7 linked regions of the Homo sapiens genome follow. The protein of the gene in region 7 purifies or fractionates together with the protein of the main gene of each other region. This does not show direct contact. Each region holds a gene or a part of one and is shown on either strand. Other genes may lie near its edges.

Region 1 (3,500 bases), on a different chromosome or scaffold from region 7:
ATTTCACATAAAATGTTGTGTATGAATGTGTTATGTCTGCTGGCTTCAGACAAGTTGGTAATCTGCACACAATAAACCTGCTTCATAGAGTTTAGGGAGTTAAGCCTGCTTATAGATTTGGAGGGCATCAACATATAGATGATATTTAGAGTTACAGAGCTGGATGAGACCACCTATGGCGTGAGAGTTTATAAAAGATATCAGAGTGCTAGCCTTAGGGCATACTAACATTAAGAGATCTAGAAGAATAAGGGGATACAGAAAAGAAGGATGAAAAAGGAGCAATCAGTGTGTGAAGCTTAAGGACATGACAAGACTAAAGAAAAATGAACCCAAAACAAGGCAGGTCCACATGTTTAGAGCTTTACAAACCTCACCTAAAAAAAAAAAGTAATTGATGAATTGATTTCAGTTCTTGGATGCCACAACACAGACTGCTACAACACGTTCATATCGCTTCAAAATTTTGTCTAAATTTTCCTCCACTGTTTCTTAATTCAACAATGTATTTCTCTGCAAAAATATCTAACAGGGCAGTATAAAGAAATTATTTTCACAAAGTTAATTTTTTTTCAGTGAAAAGGCAAATGTATACCTTCACTGGGACAACAGAATCACCCTCAAAAGAAATGCCATAAGCTCCAAAAACACACCTACTCATCTACCTACATGTGAGACTATATACTTGACTCTTCTGTTACCATGGATGACCTATTCCTAGTTCTCGCGAAGGCGACCTCCTCTATACACTAGTTCCTATCCTACTTGCAGCTACTAAGGGGCCCTATTTTAACAACTCTCCCATCTCTCTCTCCTGAATCACAAATGACGACTTTTCTACTGGATCTTTTCTGTCAATATAGAATTTATTTATCCCATGTCAAATCAAGCCAAAAACTCTCTTCTGTATTACCCTCCAGTTACCTCCCTATTTATCCCTCTTTCAGAAAACTTCTCAAAAAGTTATCTATATTCACTTTTCTTTTTTCTGCCTTCATTCTGTGAGAGTATGAACACAATCTAATCAGGTACTCATGGCCACTTCTCCTTGAAACATCTTTTTTACCTGGACTCCAGGACAATTTACTGGCCTAATTTTCCTCACACTACTCAATCTCTTTTGAATGTTGAACTATCCTAACATTCAAACGTTGAAAGTATCCCAGGGCTCCAACCTTCTTATATGAACTTACAGCCTTGATCATTTTATCTAGTCTCATGGATTTAAATAACACCTATACATTGATGATGCCTCCAAATCTGTATTTTTGCCTGGATTCAATATTCATATAGTTAAGTACCTAATCAACATCACTACTCAAGATGTCTAACAGGCTCCTCAAGCCTATTATATTCATACTGTATTTCTTAAGCTTATCAAACCCGTTCTTCCTATTCTCCACTTACTTCAGTGGCTATCCAACTTAAAATCCCAAATTGTACTCTTTTTCCCCTACACTCCTAATCCCCTTCCCTGCTTTTTCTCCACATCAGTTATCACTCTATAACATGTTACATGTTTTATTTATTTTCTTTATTATCATTTCCCCCAATGGAATGAAGGTCCACAAGGCAAGGATTTTTGACCATTTGGTCCAGTTGTAACCACAGCCCAAACAACTGTACTTAGCTTATAGAAGACACTCACTAAATATTCATGGAATAGATAAATGTACACTAATGAGACTATATACTTGTCTACAAGTGGCACTAGTGGCACATTAAGCTCACTTACCTCAACCATATTTTTTTCCAGCTCTTTGCGTTTGCTTTCCTCACATGCCAGATTTTTCTTCTTGAGATCAAATGCGCTTTGAGATTTAGTATTAACTCGCTGAGCCTCTGCAAGAGCATCTTCTAAAGATCGAAGTATACCTCCAGTTTCCTATAACAAAATGCAGTCAATTCAATCACTTATGTAAAATTTGTTCACGCTGTCATTTTATTGTATGAGTTCTGTATCAAACACTTTTTTATAAGTTATTTCATTATCTTACTATAAGATTAACAAATCAATACGGAAGACAATGCCCAATGAATCCTAAATAGTTACTATATATAATTTAGTACGTTTTTCACAGAGTATATTATCGATTCTTATACATATGTTCAGACCTTATCTTTTCTTTTTTCCAATTCTTCTATTTCATGATTAAGTGCTTTTATTTTTTTATCATTCTCAGACAATTCTTCCTGAAGCTTTATAACTTTATCTTGCATTTCTTTTAATTCCTCAGCTGAGCGTACTTTGGTATCTTCAGCCAGCAAAAACTGATAAGCAATATATAAACGACTCAAATGTTCTATTTCTCTCATTACTTTTTGGTACTCCAAGTAGGACGATCTTTCCTGAAAGAGAAATCACAAAAAAAGAATAACTCAAAATTGTATTAAAAAAAAAATTCAATTATGCAAGATGAAACAAATTTCTCATTACATAATAGATTTTGTCCTGTATTAAACAATTATAGCATTTTAAATTGTAGGAAACTTTACGTAACATCAGAAGTCAGGACTTTTAGATAGCATTCTACCATCTCTAGTGAATCTTATTTGGCTATTTCTTCTAACACACACTTGGGTAGTTGAGCTTAACAAAGAAATATGGACATAAGGTTCATAAGCTTACACACCCACCATGTTACACTATTACATGGATTCTGTAGTAGTAGTATCAAGATGCCTACTCTAATATACTTTGAAGCACTACTACAAGCACTCGCTTACATCATTACTAAACACGACTCCCATAAGGACCTACTGGGACCAGACAAAGTAATAACTAAAATCCTTAATTTATACATAAAAAACAAATTCAGAATGATTAAATGATCTGTCCATGTTGTTAGATTTAGAAAGCAATTGTGGCAAAATGAAGTCTAGGACCTAAGTTTAAATTCCTGATCTAGTGTTTTCTACTAAATCATACATACAAAAAGGGTATCTTCAAGATTACAATTTTTCCAGTAAAATTTATACTACTATATGGATTCACAAGACAGCTCTGAGTAGTACCAAATTTCAATGAGCATTTAATAAATTCCTAAAAGGAGATAGCTTTAAAAACGTCGTTTGGCTGGGCACAGTGGCTCACTCCTGTAATCCCAGCACTTTGCGAGGCCGAGGCAGGTGGATCACTTGAGCCCAGGAGTTCAAGACCAGCCTGAGAAACAATGAGAAACCCTGTCTCTACAAAAAAATAAACTAGCAGGGTGTGGTGGCATGCACCTGTAGTCCCAGCTACTCAGAAGGCTAAGGTGGGAGGATCCCTTGAGACCGGGAGGTGGAGGCTGCAGTGAGCTGTGATGACACCACTGCACTCCAGCCTGGGCGACAGTGAGACTAGTCTCAAGAAAAAGAAAACGTAGCTCATAAATGCATTTTTTGATGACATATTGTGCCATGTCTTTTGACAGTCAGGAGCTGCAAAGATTACAGAGACAATCCAATCCTCTGTTTCAATACCTTTTGCTTACAAAATACCTTGATAGCAATAATTA
Region 2 (3,500 bases), on a different chromosome or scaffold from region 7:
TGACATCACACCTTCTGCTACTACTACAAACTCTCATTTAGTAAACTTTTTAAAAAACATGTCAGCAGGAATTAAAAGAATAGTCATCTAAGTCTAGGTTGACTAGTTTTAGGAATGTTGGACATTAAAAGTCCAAACTTACCAGTTCAGGTTTCAGTATTTTTGAAAAAATAATCTTTAAGTTAAAAAAAAAAAAGCCACCAAAATAAACACTGATAAAAAAAAAAAACTTACTTCTTTTTCTTTCTGAAGCCCTTGTGTTTCCTGTTTAAGGCTATCCATAACTTCCTTTAATTTTTTTTCTTCTTTCTCTTTTTCCTTCTCGAGGGCATTGTTTCTGGTTGTTGTTTCATTAATGATATTGTTACTCTTGGCAGGTATACTTTTAAATTCTTCAACCTGAGATTATAAAACAAGTTATAGGAGCATACATCTTTATGTTACCCAATACTATCAATATTTGACATATTTAAAGGCATTTCTCAGGGTCCTCTAGTTCTTCTTTTCTTTATAATCAGAGTTAAATTAGCTAGCTTTAACAAGTATTTTCCCGACTATTCACTGTAATTTCTATATTCTCTCAATCTAATAGTAAAACTACTTCTACAAACACCTGACCTCTTATGAAGGAAAACTGTCTCTGGCAGGGCCTCAGGTCTGTCATCCTTCTCTCCTGATTTCAGGTTGTAATTATTCTTCTTTAGCTATAAATATGCTCTGACTACACGGAATTTTCTAAACTATCCTTCCTGGTATATCATAACTTACCACAAATTATCTTTACCATCTCCCCAACCCTAAAATCTTTCACAACTTTACTCTTCCAGAGTCATCATGTAGGGCTAATATTTTACTCCATTAACATCTTCTGATAATAATCACTTATCCATGCAGTCTATGCCTAAAGGCTAATCACTCTGTAACAGTTACACTTAGCTAAGTCTGTCAAGTCTTTGGGGTTACCCCCAAAGCCTTGTTATTTTGTTTACTCTGATTATCTAGTACCTGTGAAGTTCAACATTTCCCAAAATGCCACTTCCTTAAACACTGACTCAACGTATTTATCAGCTGTGCTAAGCAGAAAGTATTTTGTGAACAAATACATTTAGAAAATGCTTATAGCGTAAAGTAGAGCCTAATCTATAATTATTGTGTAACCATATGGAACAAAGCTTTTTTTTTGCGGGGCTGGGGTTAAGGTATCATATCTGTTTAAATATGACAGAGCTATGAACATGAACACAGCTTAAGAGATTCCAAATTATGAGCTTTCCTATCTCTCTTTAAGACACAGAGTCTCACTTTGTCACCCAGGCTGGATGCAGTGGCTTGATCACTATTCACTGGAATCTTGAACTCAAGGCATCCTGCCGCCTCACTCTCCTGACTAGCTAGGACTTTTAGGCAAGTTCCACTGAGCCTGGCTAATTTTGGATTTTCTGTAGAGATGGGATCTTACTATGTTGCCCAGGCTGGTCTTAAACTCCTGGCATCAAGCAATTCTCCAACTTTGGCCGCCCAAAGCACTGGGAATACAGGTGTAAGCCATTGTGCCTGGCCAACATTGGTAATTCTTGGGAAATCCTGCTCTGATCCTGTTAGCTTAGTTTTTGTAGAAGACAGGCAATATTTTTAAGTCTGTAATACCTAACTTAAATATCTTTAAAAACTACTACTTTAGGAAAAAGAAAATTAAAATTAACACCAAAATGGAACTCCTGATTTGGTAAATGTTTTCCCAATAACATATTATTGTAATATAAACTTTAAAACTCAAAGTCAAGCTAGGAGCAATGGCTCACACCTGTAGTCCACGTTACTTTGGGAGGCTGAGGTAGGTTTCTTAAGCCCAGGAGTTCAAGACTATAATCATACCACTGCACGCTAGCCTGGACAACAGACTGAGACCCCATCTCTGCAAAATTCCAAAACCAAACAAAAAACCTCCTGCAAAATAAAGTCAGTAGAAGCAAGGTTTCCCTTGAGGGGGTAAAATCATGTTCAGAGACAAACCTTAAAACAACATTTAGAATACTAATTCATTCTCTTAGGCAATAAGGGGCAAACACATCCATGAAAACTAGGTATGATATTCAGACGTGAAATTTTAAGAATTTTTTTCTAACACCTACCTTTTCTTTATCTTTTTGAAGTTGTTTCTCCAGTTTTTTGGCTTTACTCGTGGCATGTTTTAACTTTTCTCTAACTTGAACATCTTCCAAATCTAGCTGTGTAAATTTTTCTTTATTCTCCTCAATAAATTTTGTAATTTTATTCAGTTTCCTAGCAAAGCAAGTATATTGTAAGTCATTATTTTGAATGTGCACATATTTTAAAACCACATTTCCTACCTGGAACACTTCCTCTATAAATATGTCCAGGCTCTTAATAAGGCAGGATCCTAAAACTCTCCTTATTCCAAGATGATCCCTCTCCCCATAGTTGAAGAAGCACCTGTATTTTTGATTATGACAGCTATTTTGCCTTTCTAAGTTGGAGGGAAAATAACACATTTTCCAGTGACTACAATGTCTAGGTATATAAAAATTTTACCATAGGAGTAAAATTTTGGTTTTACCTTTTACGAATATACTTACAAGTTACTATACAATAAACTTACTATACAAATTTTTTTATTTAAAAATAATTAGAGATACTAGTGTCATTGAAAAATGGCATCAAGTAGGGACATGATAAAACCCTTAAAAATCTATCTAGAAAAACCCAAATCCTATCCCTCTATCAGATTTGTGGACTACTAAAAGATTAAACTGTGAAGCCAAATGCTTATTGTTTGTTACTGTGCTACGCCACTAGGGGGTAGCATCCCCACGGTTCTAAGACTTCAGAGTAGGGAATTTCATCTGTAACAAGGAACTGGATGCAAGGCAAGTTTTTTTTTTTCACTAAGGGGGCCACCACTTGATATGCTGGCAAATGTCTTACACTCACAATGTGCTAGAAGTAACTTTATATATAAATACACATGTAATACAATTATCTAAATACTTTTAGTACTTCCCAAAATATTATTACTTTTCTGTATCTTTTACATCTTTATTCTTAGCTTTCATTTCATTTGATAGTATATTGCTCTTCTCATTAATTTCTTTGGTATCTTCATGAATTTTTTCCTTTTGAGTTTCCATTTCAGCAATTCGTTTCTGCAACTCATAACTATAGGGAGGAAAAAAAAAAAAAGAAATTGAAGCTCCTAAAATGCCATTTCCAAAACTGTATAACAATTTTAGTAAAACTAACTGTTTCTAAAATATTATTAACTAGTCAATATATGACTGCCTAGGCTATGAGGGGAAAATCCCCCTGGGTCAAGGCTAGAATTTAGGAACAAAAATCGATTTCATTGTACCAATGTGGTGGCCGACGCCTGTAATCCCAGCACTTTAGGAGGCTGAGGCAGGCAGACTGCCTGAACTCAGAAGTTTGAGACCAGCTTGGGCAACATGGCGAAACCCCATCTCTACCAAAAAAAGAAAAAA
Region 3 (3,500 bases), on a different chromosome or scaffold from region 7:
AACTCAGAAGGGAAAGAGTGTGTGTGTGTGTGTGCGTGTGTGTGTGTGTGTGTGTGTGTGTGTGTGTGTGTGTGTGTCAGTGAGTCATTGAGGGGTGGGCAGGTGTTGTCAATCTAATCAGGTTATGTGTTCTTAACCATTGTATTGGCCATATCATGCTGAGTAACAGATTACCCCAAAACATAGCAGCTTAAAACTACAGACTGGGTATGATGGTGCACGCCTGTAATCCCAGCACTTTGGGAGGCCGAAACAGGATGATTACTTGAGCCCAGGAGTTCAAGATTGGCCTGGGCAACATAGAGAGACCCTATCTCTACAAAAAATAAAAAATTAGCCAGGCATGGTGGTGCACACTTGTAGTTCCAGCTACTCAGGAGGCTGAAGTGAGAGAATCGCTTGAGCCCAGGAAGTTGAGGCCACAGTGAGCCATAATTGCACTACTGTACTCCAGCCTGGGTGACAGCAGGACCCTGTCTCAGAAAATAAATTAATTAATTAATAAAATAACAACAACAACTGCAAACAGCTCACTCACCTGCATTGTTCTGACTCAGAGTTCCTCAGGAAGTTATATAGCCAAGCTGTCAATCAGGGCCTTAGGAATCTGAGGACTCTGCTAGGGCTGGAGGATCCACTTACAAGCCCAGTCATGTGGTTGTTGACAGGCCTCAGTTGCTTGTGCTATTGGCCAGCAGCTTCTTTTCTAGGCCATGTATGTGTCTTCTAAATACTACTCATGATATGGCAGCTGGCTTCCCCCAGAGCAAGTGACCAAAATGGAGACTGTAAGCTTTTATACCCTAATCTTGGAAATGACATACTATCACATCTGCTGTATGCCTCAGAGTTTATCTTCTACTCTGAAAGAGTGAATGTGGGAGGGGACTGCATAAGGTCATGAATACCAAAAGGCAATGATCATTGGAGGACCATCCTGGAGTCTGGCTACCACAGTCACCTAACATATTAATCTTTATTAGAGAGTCCTCACACATCTGAAGGGTTTAAACCACAGTTAACCTTGAGAGTAAAAATGTATATATTAGTATACTGGTGTGTTAACATTTTGTGTCATTACTGTTCATATATTTACTTGAATAAAAATTTAAATTGACTTACATTTAAAGGAGATTTTACATTTATTGACTTAACGACCATCTCTAGTACCAACAAAACATTTAGGGTTTTTTTTAACCTTCATTAAGTAGGGTGAAAGGAATTTAAATGTTGTTTATTAGTACAGATATACAGATGTTTGGCTAATTCCAGTGAATATTTTCTTTTTCAGAATTTTTTGCAGATAACCTGGGTGATTTTCTCATTTTTCTCCGCCGCTTTGCCGATGACATTTTGGAGACATCAGCAGATTCCCTGGAGCATGTCCTTCACTTTATCACCATTTTCACTGGAAGCATAGAAAGGTGAAGTGCTGAAAGCTTGGTTCTGTCACTGTTTAGGCTGTAAAACATTCAGAAGACTTCTAAACCAAGAAATAAACAAGCCTGAATCATAAGGGGTTGCCTTCAGAAGTTATGGTAACATTAAGGAATCACCTGACCATCCATATGGGTAGCCAGAAATCCCACTGTTGAGAGGTATAATAAACAAAGGACTTTGTCCACAGAGAATTTAATCCTGCATATAAGTATCTTATGGGAAGTCCACTGCCAGTCCCTGGTTAAAGTAGTTAACCTAATGCCAGAAACTTAACAGTGGCAGCCAGGTGCTAATGATCTTCTAATAATTATATGATAATAAAGCTTATTCTTGCTATTCTGAGTTGGATGAGCAGTAAACTTAAGTCAATGTTATTTCTCATTTCAAGTTTTCTCACTCATAGCTTCTAGTCCTCTTTTCCAAAGGAAGATACTGTGACTTGTAGAATTGCTTCCCTGATTTTTTTGATGCATAGGCTAAAGGAAGTGGAAACTCTGTGTACAAAAGTGAAGATTTGCTGCACAATGAAGAGAATGACCCACAATTCCCTGAGCCGTATCAGTGATAAGTAGAGAGAAGCCATTTCTTCACTGAGCTGAGCATACCTAATGAGAAGTCATAAGTCAACAAGTATTATGCATACACTGTATGCGTCATGGGTAATGTAGCATAATTATATTCTAGTCTTTACCCTCAGAAAGCTTGAAAAGGCAAGTTTATTCCACATGAAACTGTCAGAGAATAGGAAGCAGTAAATAATGCATTATTACAGAGAAGTAAACAATGGCTAAGCATTCAATAGAAACTTAAGTGCTCACCGTCATATTTGGTAAGCTGTCAACTCAAGAGTTAAATGATGTACCCTGCATCACCACCCCACCCCCCGCCCAGCCGCACCAAGAAACTGACAAACTTAAAACTGCAGAAGTGGATCCTTTTTTTTCCTGTAATATGGTTTAGGGTGGATTTTGATTCTTATGTGGAGAGAACAGAGTCATAAATTTGGAGTTAAGCTTATCTGCTCATCTTGCTTTTTGCCCATTTTGCAGAATGAAGAATCCCCACCTGAGGGCCAAACTAGCAGAGGTGTTGGAAGCAGTGATGCCCCACCTGGATCAGACCCCAAATCCCTTGGTATCCAGTGTGTTCCACCGGAAACGTGTGTTCTGCAACTTTCAGTATGCACCCCAACTTGCAGAGGCTCTAATCAAGGTTTTTGTGGACATCGAATTTACAGGTAAAGCAGTCATGAAGCTGAGCCCAGAACTGGGAAGCTGATACCAGTGGAGTTTCATAGTTTGATCCGTATTTGGATATCAAAGAAATGTCAAGCCATTACTTATTGAATACCTACTATATGCCAGGCTTGATGATAAGTGCTTTTTTTTTTTTTTTAACATTATCCCATTGTCACCATTGGAAAAGTTTCACTCTATTATCCCTGTTTTATTTATTTTTTATTTTTTAATTATTCTTGTTTTACATATGAAGACATGACTGCCCAAAAGATCAGTTTGTCCATGTCATAACAAACTACCAAGTGGTAGAATCAGGTCTGTGTCACCTAAAGAAATCTACATATTCAACACCCTTATTATGTTGCATCATCAAATCAGACTCAAATTAGACTATTTGGGTCTTTATATTTCTCTGCCTTAAAATTACAGAATAGTGCATAAAGAGGCAGTGTATTGGTTGAGAGATTCTTTTATCTTAACCAGACTATCTAACTCTCCAACAGTCTAATGGTTCGATTAAAAATACCAGCAGGCGGACAGGCACAGTGGCTCATGCTTGTAATCCCAGCGTTTTGGGAGGCCAAAGTAGGCAGATCACTTGAGCTCCTGAGTTTGAGACCAGCCTGGCCAACATGGTGAAACCCATTCTCTACAAAAATACAAAAATTACCCAGGCATGGTGGCAGGTGCCTGTAATCCCAGCTACTTAGGAGGCAGAGGCACGAGAATTGCTTGAATTCGGGAGGCAGAGGTGGCAGTGAGCTGAGATCGCACCACTCCAGCCTGGATGACAGAGCAAGAAATCCCTCTCAAAAAAAAAAA
Region 4 (3,500 bases), on a different chromosome or scaffold from region 7:
CTATTCCTTGCTACCAAACCTGCCCGGAGTGTGAAGAACTTGTGTGTTTTGTGAGACTGAGATGTAGGGTTTGTGTCAGGGGCAGGAAAGGGGTGGTGACAAGAAACAGGAGAGGCTGGAGTAAGCAGGATCTTACACCCTACATTCAGGAGGTAGGGTTTTGTCCTGATGATGAAGAGTCAGTAAAGGGATTTTAGGCAGGGAAGGGATACGTTTCAGAAAGACTGCGTGGCTGCTGGGAGATGGTACAGGGCAGAGGCAGAAGACTGGGAGGCTGGTGGGAGGACAACGTCCAAATGAAAAAATTATAGTGTCCTAAGCCAGAAGAGAGAAGGTAGAGACTGGCAGACTCTAGAATCCTTTTAAGAGCTGGGAAAGACCAGACTTAGAAGCTGGGGAAAGAGATAAGGTCTTGACCTACTATGGGGTAAACCAAGTGGGTCACAACTGCTTGACACTTCAGCCAGCAAGATGCTCATGGGCCAGCATATCCAACCCTCCCCAGTGGCCCCACTGGCCATTTTAATCACCACTGAGGACACTAAGGTCCAGATGGATCAGTATTAGGCACCCTAGACCAGCTTTTTGGTTGGCAGAGGGGCCGGGATATCTTCATGAGAAAACACAAACCATCCCATCTCAGAACAGGTTGGGATCCAATCTCTTTATTGTCAGGGTCCCCTCCCTGTGGCCCCCCGCCAAACCTATAGAAAAAACCCAAGCCTGGGAGTGTCCTGGGGAGGGGAGGTAGTATGGGGAAACCCCTGTGCTCTACCCTCTGGCCTGGGCAGTGCAGACAGGGAGGGCTCATGGGGAAGGAGTAGGCCAGTAACTCCACCTGCAGAGGACATGGCACTGGCTGGGATGCGTTGGGGGAGGAGGCGCCTGCTGCCAGCTTTCCTCTGGTACCCGCTGGGGGGTGGCATCCAGGGTTGGGTGCCCGGCTTGAGGCCTGGGGCAGCGATGCCCTTCACCTGCTGGTGGCCATTGCTCCTGTCAGGCTGAGAAAGAGAGAGAGAGAAAGAAGAGACTAAGGCTGAGAGGAAGAGACCCTGTTGCTGATAAAAGGGGTAGGGAAGAAAGGGTGGAATGATGTCTGGAGACAGAGAGATTCTTGCACTCTGGCTGTGGCCTCATAATTTCCTGGCCATGTAACCTTGGGCAAGTCTCACCCGCTCTCTGAACCTCCATTTCCTCACCTGAGCCCATATAACTCACCTGTGAACTATTTTAACAAGCTTTGGAAAGCACCAGGCACAAAGGGGTGTAGCAGGATGGCTGGATATGGAGGTTTGTTTGCATCCCAGGCAAAACAAACCAAGAAGTTCCAAAAGAAGACTGCATATGTACAATTTTCTAAAGCTCTTCTGGAAGCCTTTGCTGGTGGGATATCTTACTACAGCATAAATGTGTCATCTATCCAGACACCTCCCTGGAAACACTAGTGTTTGAGACCTTCCTCCACCCAAGCCACCCCAAGGGAATGGGTCAGAGAGTAGTAGGCACAGCCAGGTGTGGCCTGGCTTTCCTTTAAGGTAGGGCAGAGTAGATGGTAAACAGTGGCCAGAGAGTGGGCTTTGAAGCCACACACCACTGGGCTGAAATCCAGGCTCCACCAACTACTACCTTATCTCCCTGCACCCTTTAGTGTCTGTTTCCACATCTATTATATTGGTACAATCATCAGCTTGTGGGATTGAAGATGAACTCAGAGAAAGCAGGTGCAGCTCCTGTCACACAGGGCATTTCCTCCCCATGAAAGAATCAAATCCCAGCCCCTAAGCCTGACACATACGGCCCTTCACAATCATCACCCTCTGACAATAAGCAGAGTCCTCTACCAACTAGGGGGGCACTGCAGCCACAGGAGGCTCTTGGCCTCACCACATACCAAGGACTGTCACAGCTCTGTATGGCTAAGGCCATTCCCCTGGTGTGGAACATTGCTCCCTCAATCACTAGCAGGCTCAGCTACACATCATCTCTTCCATGACCTGGCCTCGCTCTATTGTTATCCTGCTCACACTAGGTGGTAATGGCTTATGTCTTCCTCTACCAGACTAGGAGCTCCTCAAGGGCAGAGACAGGCAACATGGCTGAGTGTGCTGAGGGAAGGAACCCTTGCTAGGTGGGCCCGCCTGGCCCATCTACGGCACCTGCTTCCTCAGCATGGCAAGCCCCAAGCATGAAGGGGTGTGACGGGATGGCTAGATATGGAGGGGACTTCATTCTTGGGTATAGTCAGTGCTACTTGGCCAGGTATGCTTCGTGACACTTCCTGCCCAATCCAGGGAAAAGGCACAACCTCCACTTCACTGATTCCCCACCCTCTGCCCATCAGGACAGGACCCCTGTACCTGCTTACTGCAAGGCCCCATCATCCGCGTCTGTGTCCTGGCTGTGTTCCTGATAGGGAGGAGGTAAGAGAGACCACACATCACTCATTGCCAGCTCTGAGTCCTGCCCTGAGCCATTTGTCCAGAAAAACTTCATGGTCCAGAGGGCATCTAGAGGACACAGTCAGAAGACGCAGGAACAGCCAAGGGGAATGACTATGGGACCAGCCAACAAAGCTGGCTTGGGAACTTGGAAGGGTGGTCTGAGGACCCCACACAGGCCAGTGAAGGGTGTTCTGGGAGTGGCAGGAGCCCCATTTCTGTGCAGAGAGCCTGCACTGGAGAAGGCTGAAAGCCTTATAGACTGGTGAGCTCCCCATCTCTGGGGGCATCCAAGTCTTTGTTAGGGCCTTTATGGACACTGCTATGCCTGAGAAAATAAGATGAAGGATCAGGCTACGCTCAAAGGAGAGATGAGCTAGCATAAGGCAGACCTCCTAACCGTCATGGCCATGAGCCCATCTGTTCTCACGATAGAACCCAGCAGTGCTGAAAAGGAGAAAGCTGCAGATCCAGCAAGTCAGTCTGGACTCCAACCCTGGCTCAGTCCCTACGAGCTGATGCCCTGAGCATGCCACTCAGCCTTTCTGAGCCTCGATTTCCTCACAGGGTAAAATGTGGGAACAGAATACTCTGCATAGTACAGGGCTCTTGTTAAGGTTATGTGAAGTTAGAGAGTATGATCTGGGTCTTGGTGCTCAATGAGCGCTCATTAAGTAAATGAGCAGCAAGTGTACAACCCATATCCCACAGACTCAGAGTTTGGTCCACCCTCCCACTCAACATAAGCTCCTTGTCAAATGGCCTGCCGGCCTCAGCCTGAATAGTTCTAGTAACAGGCGGGGAGCTCACCCCCTTATGAGACAGCTTTTGCTTCATGCTTAAGCAGCAATGGCTTTTAGAAAAACCCACCTCCTGGCTGTGGCCTCCACAAGCCACCCCAGCCCTGCTCTGAAGCTCTGCAGGCCGTGTGTGCTCCCTTATGTCCGAATCTCCCATTCTCCAACTCATGTGGAAACCGGAGGCCAGAATGTGCCCGCATTTGGGGGAGGTCTGCCCTAGGCCTCAGTGGGACTTCTGATGGTGTCTGAGATAGGCAAGTGC
Region 5 (4,267 bases), on a different chromosome or scaffold from region 7:
GGAGTCAAGTGGGTAGGAGAGAGAGCAGAACAGAAGCTCAGACCCAAAATAAGCAATAGACAACTTAATTCAAACTACCAAAAAGTTGTGTTTAAAGCCCAGTCTCAAACATCTTATACTCAGAACGTTCAGCACTAGAACTGAAATTACAATGTATTGCTACTTTATTTTTAAATGCTAGGGGTAACACCTGTTTCTTATAATTTGAGGTTTTACTGAAACTGTATTTACCAAACCAATAAACAAGAAAAAGCACAGCCCTAGAACACAACAGAGCAAGGACAATCCTGTGTTATCCTTCCCTAGCCTTCCCATGAAGAGCTCACAGCACGATTTTCAGTCTCATGTTGATAGGAGGCTCAGAAAGCCAACAACAACCAGAAATTACACTAACACACCAAATAGCCCTCTTCTGCATGAATAGGTAATGTTAGGTAATGCCTATTAACGCCAAAATCTATTCTGCTAGATATCATGTTCTGAATACACTGAAAATACACCATTCATAAACCAAAATTATAAAAGTGTTCATTTTAATGAGATAACTGTCATATTAAAGCCTTAATATTTCAGGGTGACAAGAAAGTCTGGAAACATAGGCAAATATTTTCCATTTTGACAGTGTTAAGTGACCAACTTGAATGCCAGCACTTGATGAGTGGAGGGAAAGTAACCGGGAGTGATTCCAACAAGATGGCACACCACCCCCTTACACCACATTGGTGAAGAAAGCTGGATGAAGATTTCCAAAGAAAGCGGCCCTGTGGAGTGGGCTTCAGGCTTGCCAGATCTGGACTCCCTTGATAGCTTCTTCTGGAGTGCACTTAAAACACAGATTTATTCCGTGAAAATCAAGCAGCATCACAGATGCACATGCAGGGACTGACAGAAATGCTGCATTCATGTACCACATTCACGGAAATTTTGCACTATTTATTGCTCATGAGGGCCGACATCAATCATGTGATAGCAAGAAATCATTTGTTCATGTAGATTCACCTAGTTTGCAGAAGTTTGTGGTTATCTTATCATTTGACACAGTGAAGCCACCATATATTCTGAGAGCTGGTCACATTAAAGTACTTCCACCAACCTGAGGTTGGCACTGCAAACACTGAATGAGCACAGCATTCCTCCTTGAACCCAACGGGCTCTGCTGTATCTGTGGTTTACCAAAAGGCAAAAAGCTGGGTCCCACCTGAGGTTGGCACTGCAAACACTGAATGAGCACAGCGTTCCCTCTTGAACCCAAGAGGCTCTGCTGTCTGTGTGGTTTACCAAAAGGCAAAAAGCTGGGTCTCAGTCAACTGCTGAATGCATTAGAGTACAGAGGCTGTAGTCCTCAGGCCTCCCCCTCACTGCAAGGGTAACACAGGAAAGATAACCTCCCATCTTTGACACGCCAGCGGGGAGGAGGGGAAAGAACCTACACAAGTTGAGGAGCCCTTTTTCAGTTAAGCAAGTCAGTGGCCTTACGCACCATCCAAAACCACACACACACACAAACAAAACACCCTGCTGAAGGTATCACCACCTTAACCCAAACCTGGTACCTCTGCCACCAAGGCCAGCCTGGGCAAAGATTAACCTGTGGTCTTCGGCCTTGGGTTCACTGACAGGGCCACCTTGGAGAGACAGCAGGCCAACTTTCTGTTTGTTTTAAAGGAAATGCTTCCTGGCACATGTTTAGGACTCTGAACTCTGCACATGAAGCCACGTGGTTGGTGTTAATCTGGCTCCATCCACTCACGATCGGCCAAAGCAACCTATTTCCGAGGGCAGCCCCTGGCTGGGTAATCGACACCATCTCGTTCAAGTCACGCGGGCTCCCGCCGGATTCCCCGGAGCCTAGTGCCGCGTCCTCTCCACACAGCAATCCTCCCGCGCGAGGGGAGCGGGGGGGAAAGGGGTTGGGGGGTTTCAGAGGGGAGGGACTTACACCTGTGAGGCCAATGGCTCTAGCGGGTCAGGTGAAGTTCGAGGGCGCGGGACAGGAGGAGACTCCCGCCCTTCCAGTCAAGCCGGCTTTGCACTAGCAGAGTGCGCCGGCGCCCTACTTGCGGTGCCCACCTGTAGCCACAGCAAACAAACTTTCCTCCCCTTCTGGGTTGGAAGAATCCGGTGCCTTACGCCACCCCCTGGCCCAAGCCGGCGGCGACCCGGAGCTCCGCGGACTCCTCACCTGATACCCCTAAAATCCCAACCTGGTCTGTCCCAGAGCGCAATCCCCGCACTGCCCGCGCACCCCGTTTGGGTATGCGGAGTGGAGGGTCTGGGTTGCCAGCTGGATATTAGGAATTGGGGGGCGGGAGGAGCGGGGGGACGCGATTCACTGCCCTTTGCAACTCCAGCTCCCAACTTTGCCAGCCGCGCAGTTGCTGCCTTCCAATTTCCTCTGCGCCGCGCAACCGGCTCCCTCGGCTTCTCCAACGCCGTCCTCGGGGAGGGAGCTCCCCAAGGCCAGCAGGAACCCCGCGCGCCCGGCGCACTTACAGCCATAGCGGGGTCTCTGCAGCGACGGCAGCTCTTCGTGTGGCATCCTGCGCGTCTCCGGGGGCCCGCCCGGGGCGCGCCCCCCGCGGCTACCCTCGCTGGCCAGGCTCGCGGGCTCTGCGCCCCGCCGGCGCGCTCGGATCCCGCCTCTCGCCGATTTCCCCTAGCCGCCCGAAGATCTGCGACCCACTCCCTCGGTGCTCTCTCGCCAGAGCCAGCCACGGCCGCCGCGCGCTGACACTGAAGTAAAAGTGAACTCTCCTCCCTCGCTCCCTGGCCGGTCGCCGCCGCCTCCCGCAGCAGGTTTCCTTTCTCCTCCAGCCAGGCCCCGTTATTCACCGCGGTGGGAGCGCGCGCCGAGACGCAGCGACCCCTACCGCGTGTCGGGCGCAGCGCCCAGGCCGCGTGGACCCGCCCCTTCTCCCCCGGGGGAGAGGGAAGGGGCCGAGAGGGACGCTGGGCCGGGACCCCCTGCAGCTGGGGCCCCCGCACAGCTGGTGGCCTGGGGGTGGCGGCCACCCCGCCTTATTTCTCGCTTCTGGAGAGTTTCGAGGGTGGAAGTGAACCAACGCGGAGAAGTGCAAGAAAAACCGCAGAAGTCACAGGGAGCCCTTCGTGTCCGGGGTGTTGCTCAGTTACTGAGGGACAAACAGCGCGGTTCCTTTTCCTCTGGGGAGATTTCACGTTGACTTTTGTTCTTCTTCTTCGTCTTTTTGGTTTTGTTTTTTTTTGTTTTTTTTTTTTTTTTGCTTCGAAAGTTGCTTCTGTCACTTTTTGTCTACAAAATAACAGGGTTCCCCTTATGACAAGAAACTGAGTGTGTGTGTGCTGGAGGAACAAGATAACCCAAGGCAACCACTCAAAACACAACTGCGAGTCATCCCCCTCCCTCCGATCACCTTGTGCCCGCCCCCGCCCCAGTGTGCAGAGCCTTCTCTCAAGCCCAGCTGGGGTCGCAAGCCACAGAAACCTTTTCCGGCTAAGCTTTTAAGGAAATTAAACTGCATGTGGCTGTTTTGAAATCGGGGTTTTCATGCGGTCGCCAGGAGCTATTTTTCTCTTTGTGTCTCAGCGTGATAAAATCTGGAGGGAATGCGGGACGCTTCCGTACCTGTGCCCTCACCTATTTGACAATTGTGGAATGTGTGGGTGACCCGATAACAGGAAAAACAAACTGAGGGAGGGCGATAAGAAATTATTTAGAGCCGGGCGCGGCGGCTCACGCCTGTAATCCCAGCACTTTGTGAAGCCGAGGCACAAGGATCCCTTGAGCCCAAGAGTTCCAGACCAGCCTGGGCAACATAGCGAGACCCCGTCTCTCCAAAAAATGAAAAAATAATATTAGCCGTATTAGCCGGGCGTGGTGGTTGCGCCTGCAGTCCCAAGCTACTCAGGAAGCTGAGGTGGGAGGATTGCTTGAGCCCGAGAGGACAAGGCTGCTGTGGGTTGTGATTGCACCAGTGCACTCCAGCCTGGGTGAGAGTGCAAGACCCTCGGAGGCGGTGGGGGGATGGAAATTATTTCGCTGAGGAAATGGTGGCATAGTGACACTAATCATTTTTTATTATGCAAGGATACAGAGGATGAGCAGCTGTTTTCCATTTCATATAGGAGACGCAGTCCTTCTCAAACTTGTTGAAACTCACATTCTTGGGCCCCACCCTCAGAATTTCCGACTCAATGGGTCTGGGCTGGTGCTCATGAATTTGCATTTCTAATTTCTAGCATACTGCCAGGTGATGCTGACACTGCAGAGCGTGCTTAGGGTGGCTCT
Region 6 (3,500 bases), on a different chromosome or scaffold from region 7:
AATTTTTGTATTCTTTTAGTAGAGATGGGGTTTCACCATATGTTGTCCAGGCTGGTCTCAAACTCCTGACCTCAGGTGATCCGCCTGCCTCGGCCACCCAAAATGCTGGGATTACAACCACGCCCGGCCAATACTCAAAAACTTTGAAATAATATATAATTTAAAATAGTGTTAACTTTTAATGACAGTAAACATCTTCCAAAAATATCCATATTTTTGAAAATTGAAGAATTATATGACAATGTCTATCTTTATATTAAAGGTGCTTTTATGTAGTTAATACTCATCTTCTGAATTTTAGTGTTTAACCATTTCAAAGAATCTTAAATAACAAATCTGTCAACCACAATCAATGTTTAATCAAATATTGATGTGGCCCCAAGTTTTGTTGGCAAGATTAAAAAACTAAAGATGTGTTATGACTTAAGACCAGACTTAATGTTTGCATCTTAGTAATTATAATATATAGCATTTTCTAACTTTAGACAATAGGCTATTCTGTGTAAGACTACCAAATTTAGAAAATTAATGGAAACATAAATATAAAAAGTTTCAAAATTTAATAAAAGTAAATACTTAATAGCTTACACAAGGCATTTATCACCCAATTTTTATTTTTGACAAAAGAACATGAGAATCCTCTTTGCCTTACACTGTCTTTTTTCTCTGAATAATTAAAAAATATATCCATACCTATTTGCACACAGTATTAATCTAATATGGGCAGAGAGAAGAAACAGACTCTCTGAAAAGAAGTTGAGACAAAAAACTGAAATTCAGTTAAATAACATTACAAGGACAGTAGTTTTATATTTACATTTTAAGTGTCGGGCCAGAGTTAAGGAAAAGTGAGAGAGAAAAACATGGAAGCTTTGAGATGGTGGACAACTGAATACTGGTGGGAAAAAACAGAGGAGAAGCAAAGAGAATTATGTAAGATAGATTATTTTCTCTTACTTCTTAGATAAAGGCATTTACCAAAGCAAATGTCTGTATACTGATAGTATTTAAATTCCAACTGAAACGACAAATAGCAAATTCTAACTGTATACATGGATTCATTTTCACTGGTGAAGTCTGCTAATGCTCTGGCTGAGAAAAATACACATATTCTTATTTCTAAAGAATCGGGAGAAAAGAACTGATCTTCAACGGCATACCAATTATTTGGTATAACATGTATAAAACTAAGTCAGATATGTTCTTGACAGTTACAAATCAGATTGCCCTTCAGAGTTATGATTATATTTGCTAGCATCTACCTAATCATTTATAAACGCTTACTGAATGGCCCAAGCCCTGTGTTGAAAGCTGGAGATAAAGGATATATATGACATTGTTCCTGCCTTTAAAGAGGTTATAGATAGTTGTAGAAAATGAGTGTGTATCAGTGCAGGAGTCTTAAGGGTGCTGCACAGAAGTATATAAGGTTATAAAGGAGACACAAAGTTTAACTGGAAAAAGAAAGAATAGGTAAGAAAATCCTCTAGAGATGAAGATATTTCCCTAATGGTCTTTACACTCTTTTTTCACAACCAAGTATTTCCATAAATTTGGTCACTATTGTTTCGGTGTTGGACAGTTCCTGTTTCAAATCTAAACCCATTTTAGCAGTGATGAACTGCTTCAATTATGTATGTATGTATGTATGTATGTATGTATGTATGTATGTATGTATTTATTTATTTTTAGAGAGGGGGGTCTCCCTTTGCCACCCAGGCTGGAGTACAGTGACACAATCATAGCTCACTGCAGCCTCGAACTCCTGGGCTGAAGCGATCCACCTGGTTCAGCCTCCTGAGTAGCTGGGATTATAGGTGTGAGCCACTGTACCCAGCTTAATACTACTACTTTTAAATTAAAAGAATCTTTACTTAAACCTTCCTTATTCTAGACTCACAAGTTATTTATCCAAAAAAAGATAAGATTAACAATATAATTATACTAATTATGCTAGCATCAACTGTTATCAGAAAAAAGTAATAAATTTACAATTTCTCTATTTGCAATCACAAAAGAACTTCTATAACAATCCTATGAGTTTTAAAAATACCACATAAACTGATTTTAATATTGATATGTTTCTAATTAAAAACAGACATTAAGATATATTTACTCTTTCAACAAATAAGAACTCCAACTCATGATGGTTTTATGGCTATAAAGGAATGAGACTACCTATAGGCATCATATTTCTTCATTATCATGGCAGAAAAATCATAAACTATTTAATAAAACCACATATTGAAGTAAATGCAAAACAACTTCCATTATAATTTGAGAGCTCCCAATTAATAGTATGAATTATTTTATTTAGGGCTGCCATATTTACTACACACATATGACATTACACTTACAAAGCAATTCCTATCAACAGTGGATACCTGTTATTTTACTCAGTCATTCAGTTGGTATCCAATCATTCTTCTTCTGGCAACAGAGCCCCTGTTTTCCTCTGGAAAACACCCTTTCTCATTCTTAGTGTATGTGCCTCAGATAAGGCTGACAATCTTTCAATATCTCTAGAACAGGGGTGTCCAATTTTTTGGCTTCCCTGGGCCACACTGGAAGAATTGTCTCAAGCTACACATAAAATACACTAATGATAGCTGAAGAACTTTAAAAAATGCAAAGAAAAAAAAAACAGAAAAGTTTTAAGAAAGTTTACGAATTTGTGTTGGGCCACATTCAAAGCCATCCTGGGGCACAGGTTGCACAAGCTTGCTTTAGAAGTAAAAACATGACCCAGGTCTGACCTATTGCTATACTCACACCCATAACCTTTACTGGTTTGGGTTTGAGCACATGACGCAGGATGGCCAAACAAGAGCATGAGAAGTTGGGAAACTTGTCGATAAAGAGATATTTGTGTTTCAAATCTAGTAGAACACCAGCCTGGCATTGCTAGTGGCTATCTTACCACTATTATGAGAAGAGGAAGAACCTGACTGAAAATGAAGTTAACTCAGATAAAAATGAGACTGCATTTTTTGGCATCTGAATCTAACCCTGTCTAAAGCCATCACAGAGGAAATACAACTCCCTTTTTTGCTTAAAGAAATTTGAATTGAATTATGATAATTTCTATAATTTTGAGGGCTTCTATAATTTGTAACTGACCAAAAAGTACCTTTGAAAATATTTTTACATTCTTTTTATATCATGCATTATTTGCCTATCAAAATACTGACATTTCATTTTATCTCTTAAACTTAATAGTCAAGATATCATAGTTCTGGTAAGGAAAGACATGTAGATTAATTTACTTTTTACCATGATATACACTATATAATCTAACCAGAAAAATGCCTTTTATTTTCCCAATGTATTACAATTTAGGATACTGAGGCTCCACTTAGTAGCATCCAGTGGAGATACATGTGCCATTTTGGGGAATCTACATTGAATTGTTGAACAAAGCAAATTGAAAAATGGTATCCTTTCGATTACAGACTTCAAATAAATAAAAATCTGCCTGTGTGAATGACTGATTTGATAAA
Region 7 (4,270 bases):
TTACATCTCTTTGCAGCCCTTTAGCTTCTTGGAAAAGTTCTGGTAGCAAACAGAAAGACTTGTCCGTGGGAGAGCTATCCGGTGACATCCCTTCATGTTACCAGTCAGCTTATCTAAGTTCTTCCCGGGTTGCCCTTGATGCTTTCTTGGTTTGGGCTTATTTCATTTTCTTTCCTTCTTTTTTTTTTTTTTTTTTCCCAACAATAAAATAAATAGCTAAAAAGGTCTCTAAGTCATCGGAAAGTTAACATCCCAATTAACTTTCCCATCCCCACTTCCCTCCCTTTCTAAACCTGGCCAGAAATGAAGAGTAAACATTCACATTACAACAGGTACTTATAATGTGGGCTTTGCCCGTTCGTCCGCCTAGCAAGACAGATTCAAGTTCACTGTTTACATATTACTGGGCGCTTTGTAAACAATACAAGGTTACTTTTAGTTTTGTTTTGCTGTGTGAGGACGAGCGTCGCTTTCTCAGCTTGGCAGCCTCTTTCCTAACTCCCAGCGCCTGGAGCCTCTGGAAGGAAACAAAACCCCAAACAACAACAAAATCTCCGCAGAAGCCTAGGAGGCAGGGCCGCAACCCCGGGAAGCTGTGGTCGGCCCAGCCCCTGCCGGATGGGCGGAGGCGAGTGGGGTAGGAAGATTAGTGGCTCCTTTTTGCTGCAGATTTCCAAGACGTAAAGAGATCCGGCCCTCCCCTGCGCTGTTGCAGCCCTCGCGGGGAGGGGGTGTGGGGGGGATCTGTTCCTGGAAACATCTGAGGCAGTTTCTCTAGTCTTGAAACTGCGCAGAGTTCGGGGCTCCGCCGATCTGGGCGGAGGGAAGACGCGCTTTTCTCGGCGAAGAGGGGGTGACAGGGTTTCCCCCGCCGGTCAAATAGGAGGGGGTTTCGGGGCCTCAGGGAGGGGATGGTTCGGCTCAGGTGGCCCCGGCCTTCCTTGATGTGGGGGCGAGGACAACTCCCACGCGCCTCTCGGCCCATCTGCAAGTTTGTGTTTGGTCTCCTGGGTCCAAAACAAAGTTCTCTTGGGGCAAGGCGGGTTGGCCGAAGGTGAAATGAACAAGTTAGGGTGGCGGTCCCAGGTGGGGGCCGGCAGGACTGGGAGCCAGGGAAGGCGAGTGAGGTGGTGGGGAGGAGAACGAGAGGGGGCGTGGGCTCCTGCGGGTCAGTGCACCGCCACCGAGTGCAAGGCGGAGGCCGGGCTGGTGAGCGTTTCGCTGGGGGTGGCGGGGCTGCTTTGGCTGGTGGCTGTTTGCGAGGACGTGGGGCTGAGCGAGGGCGGCGAGTTCGAGAGCAAGGTGGGGATGGGCGCTGGCAGCGCAGGCAGCGCGGGCACGGCGGCCGGCGTGGGCTTAATGGGCACGGGGATGGCGGGCAGCGTTTGGCCCGCCGCGTGGCACAGCGGCTTCAACGGCACGCCGTAGGCGCTGTAGTCGCCACTCGCCATGGAGATGGGGGTGGCCGAGTCGATCATGCCGGCGGAGCCATACACGTGTGGCCAGCCGGTGCCCAGCGAGCTGCCCATGGTAGTCAACTGGTTGGGGAGCGGGTAGGCAGCGGGCACCGGCTGCATGGCGGAGAAGGCCAGCCCCCCAGGCATCTTGTATTCCCGCGCGATGATGTTCTCGATGGCGAAGGGGTGCTTGAAGCCCGAGGGCTGCGCCACGCCGCCCAAGTTGTAGGCGGCGGCGGGCATCTGTGGCAGGTGCGTGCCCGAGGCCGCCAGCGCGCTGAGCCGCAGCTTGGCCTGCTGCTGCAGGTACTGCGCCGCGTCGGCTGGCTTGCTGGGCGCCAGGTGGTCGGACTTAAGCACCTTGAAGCGCTTGCGGCGCCGCAGGAAGCTGCCGTTCTCGAACATGTCCCCGCAGCTTGGGTGCAGCGCCCAGAAGCTGCCCTTGCCTGGCTGGTCCGGCCGCCGCGGGATCTTGATGAAGCAGTCGTTGAAGGAGAGGTTGTGGCGCAGACTGTTCTGCCAGCGCTGCGTGTTCTCCCTGTAGTAGGGGAAGCGGTCCATGATGAACTTGTAGATCTCGCTCAGCGGCAGCATCTTCTCGGGAGAGCTCTGGATGGCCATAGCGGTCAGCGAGATGTACGAGTAGGGCGGCTTCTGGTCGCTGTACGTGTTGCGGCCGGGCCGAGGCATCTTCTTCCTCGCCCTCTTCTTGCTCTGGGTCCGCGCGGGCCGGCGGACTGCTCGGATCTGGGAAGGGGGTGGGTAATAGGGAAAGGTAGCATGGATGCACAGAGACACCGGCGGGGTCAGCCAGACCGAGTAACAGACTTCGGGGGTCGGGGGTGGGGCCTGCGGCGCTCGATCAGCCAGCGCCCGGACTCTTTCGCCAGCAACTTTGCGGGCTTAGTGGGCGCGGGAGGGGAAGCCGGCGAACGGCGCGAGGATAGCCGGGAAGTAAGTCGGTACTGGGGCCAGAATAGGGGGCAGGGACGGAACAGAGAGCTGCTCACCTTAAAGTTGCTTCAAGTTGCGCGTCCGCATCCGGGAGGACGCCGCTGCGCGCCGCTTCTCTCTCGGCGCGCACTCGACGCGCACTCCGCGCGCAGCGTCCGGGTCCGGTTGGACTCGGCGCGAACCTGGGCTCTTGAGCTCAGCCCCGCAGCGTCCCGTGCCGCCCGGTCCGCGACGCTCCTGGAGCGTCCTGCGGGCGGCCGAGCTCGGCTGCGGAGTCCCGGCGCGGATGGTGGCAGCGACGTGTTAGGGCTCCGGAGGGCGCTGCTGTGGGCTCCGCGTCTCCGCTGAGCTAGGTGGCTGCCTCCATGTCCTCCCTCGAACCATCTGATAGTTTTAAGCGGTGACAGGAGCAGAAAAGACCCCTGTAGCGGCGCTTCATTAATGTGCCACTTCTTAGCTATCATATGACAATCGCCTTGGGAGGAGGAGGAAGAGGAGGGGGAGCGGGGGCTGCAGAGGGAGGGGACTGAGCGAGAAGGGAGAGCCCGGCCAGCTCTGGTTTCTTTCACACCTATTTACATGGACACCTTGGCCAATAGGAATCACTTCCAGCTCAAGACTGGGCGAGGGGGAAGAGCCTCGGCCACTGGGCAGGCAGCTGGACGCGCCGGCCGGTGTGCGCCGTGTGAAGGTATGAGGAAGCGGCCGCCGCGGAAGAGGGAGCCAGGCGACCACTCACGTTCACAGATGGAGCAGCCGCGCGGATGATGTTTGACATGGAAATTGCTTGGCTGGGGTATTCTGTTTCCTCTGCGTTGTATCCGGTTTGTATCGTTAGGTAACTTTAGGCACGGCTTTCCCCTGAAGCCGACCCTTTTCCTGCGCTTAGCACTACCCGGGGTTGGTTGCATGGGTTATAATAATGAAAACACACCCTTGCCCCCCAGTCCCCGGAGAGTTAGGTCGAAATTTGACTTGACTTTCCTATGCAGCTGCTTCAGCTTTGTATAGTTAGTGTGTAGCTTTGAAAAAGTGATGGGGTTTACAAATACTTTCAAAATGTGATTGGACATCCCCATGTAAGAACCCATTTTGAATGTAACTGTATTGACCAAATTTTTAAAAATTAAAATAGTGTATCTGGGCGAAGAGTCCAGGTATTTGCTTTAAAAGTCCTCCGGGAATTTGGTTGGACACAGGATGGAGGCTCAGGAGCTGTTGGGGCAAATGTTGTGCGGACCTGGGGAGGGCCTGAGTTTGTTTGACACAGTTTATCACCAGGTAAGCCTCAGGGGCTCTCGCTTTTCCCAGGTGGTTTGAAACTTTAGGACTCAGGCACATCCTGGAAGTTTTCATTTTACACCCGGAACTCCCCTTCCCAGCCCTCCCACCCCCCCAACCTCCCACCCCCCATCCCCCAACTGCCGCTTTTTTTGGTATGGAGAACTTATTTAGGATTTAGAGTGTAGCAAAAGCCGCCTGCGATCCCACTAAGACAGCAGTATCTTCTACAACTTGGGGAAAGAACCATAGAGTTTTCCTTCTTGGGGAGCGGGGAATGTGCCTTGGGTCACTCCGCCTGGTGCGAGCAGCAGGCTCCCTTCGGTTCGGATTCGCCTTGGAAGGGTTAAATGAATCATTATTATTATTATCATTATCCTCATCGTCGTCGCTGCCGTCATCATCATCATCATCAAATTGCTATGAAATAAATAGTGAGTCGACCCCGCCTGCATGCACGCACTCTATAAGTACACACCAGGAGTTCCCACGGGTTTCTGCACATTCTCCGACCTTTAAGGTTTTTAAAAGACATTCATTTTACTGCGTTGTTAAAAACTCAATACTTACAGCCCACA

What was found.
Region 1: the proteins of FOXB1 (region 7) and SMC2 purify together in Homo sapiens (affinity purification with mass spectrometry; one large-scale study listed by BioGRID and IntAct). This does not show direct contact.
Region 2: the proteins of FOXB1 (region 7) and SMC4 purify together in Homo sapiens (affinity purification with mass spectrometry; one large-scale study listed by BioGRID and IntAct). This does not show direct contact.
Region 3: the proteins of FOXB1 (region 7) and UBE4A purify together in Homo sapiens (affinity purification with mass spectrometry; one large-scale study listed by BioGRID and IntAct). This does not show direct contact.
Region 4: the proteins of FOXB1 (region 7) and RALY purify together in Homo sapiens (affinity purification with mass spectrometry; one large-scale study listed by BioGRID and IntAct). This does not show direct contact.
Region 5: the proteins of FOXB1 (region 7) and IQGAP2 purify together in Homo sapiens (affinity purification with mass spectrometry; one large-scale study listed by BioGRID and IntAct). This does not show direct contact.
Region 6: the proteins of FOXB1 (region 7) and NOVA1 purify together in Homo sapiens (affinity purification with mass spectrometry; one large-scale study listed by BioGRID and IntAct). This does not show direct contact.

Annotation. Positions count from the first base shown.
Region 1 is NC_000009.12:104,100,809-104,104,308, reverse strand, and holds part of SMC2 (structural maintenance of chromosomes protein 2), read right to left. Parts: intron 2,350-3,500; coding exon 2,116-2,349; intron 1,886-2,115; coding exon 1,736-1,885; intron 1-1,735. UniProt on the Homo sapiens protein: Central component of the condensin complex, a complex required for conversion of interphase chromatin into mitotic-like condense chromosomes.
Region 2 is NC_000003.12:160,413,150-160,416,649, reverse strand, and holds part of SMC4 (structural maintenance of chromosomes protein 4), read right to left. Parts: intron 3,178-3,500; coding exon 3,037-3,177; intron 2,284-3,036; coding exon 2,133-2,283; intron 400-2,132; coding exon 235-399; intron 1-234. UniProt on the Homo sapiens protein: Central component of the condensin complex, a complex required for conversion of interphase chromatin into mitotic-like condense chromosomes.
Region 3 is NC_000011.10:118,380,100-118,383,599, forward strand, and holds part of UBE4A (ubiquitin conjugation factor E4 A), read left to right. Parts: intron 1-1,120; exon of another isoform or gene 1,121-1,291; coding exon 1,292-1,424; exon of another isoform or gene 1,425-1,461; intron 1,462-2,489; coding exon 2,490-2,677; intron 2,678-3,500.
Region 4 is NC_000020.11:34,077,411-34,080,910, reverse strand, and holds part of RALY (RNA-binding protein Raly), read right to left. Parts: intron 2,407-3,500; coding exon 2,362-2,406; 3' UTR 2,358-2,361; intron 1,002-2,357; 3' UTR 1-1,001. UniProt on the Homo sapiens protein: RNA-binding protein that acts as a transcriptional cofactor for cholesterol biosynthetic genes in the liver. Binds the lipid-responsive non-coding RNA LeXis and is required for LeXis-mediated effect on cholesterogenesis.
Region 5 is NC_000005.10:76,401,818-76,406,084, reverse strand, and holds the start of IQGAP2 (ras GTPase-activating-like protein IQGAP2), read right to left. Parts: upstream 2,801-4,267; 5' UTR 2,540-2,800; coding exon 2,494-2,539; intron 1,762-2,493; exon of another isoform or gene 1,710-1,761; coding exon of another isoform or gene 1,589-1,709; exon of another isoform or gene 1,554-1,588; intron 1-1,553. UniProt on the Homo sapiens protein: Binds to activated CDC42 and RAC1 but does not seem to stimulate their GTPase activity. Associates with calmodulin.
Region 6 is NC_000014.9:26,451,534-26,455,033, forward strand, and holds part of NOVA1 (RNA-binding protein Nova-1), read right to left. Parts: intron 1-3,500. UniProt on the Homo sapiens protein: Functions to regulate alternative splicing in neurons by binding pre-mRNA in a sequence-specific manner to activate exon inclusion or exclusion. It binds specifically to the sequences 5'-YCAY-3' and regulates splicing in only a subset of regulated exons.
Region 7 is NC_000015.10:60,002,841-60,007,110, reverse strand, and holds the start of FOXB1 (forkhead box protein B1), read right to left. Parts: upstream 2,801-4,270; 5' UTR 2,468-2,800; intron 2,205-2,467; 5' UTR 2,148-2,204; coding exon 1,170-2,147; 3' UTR 1-1,169. UniProt on the Homo sapiens protein: Transcription factor expressed by neural progenitor cells in specific regions of the embryonic neuroepithelium. Essential for the mammillary nuclei maintenance.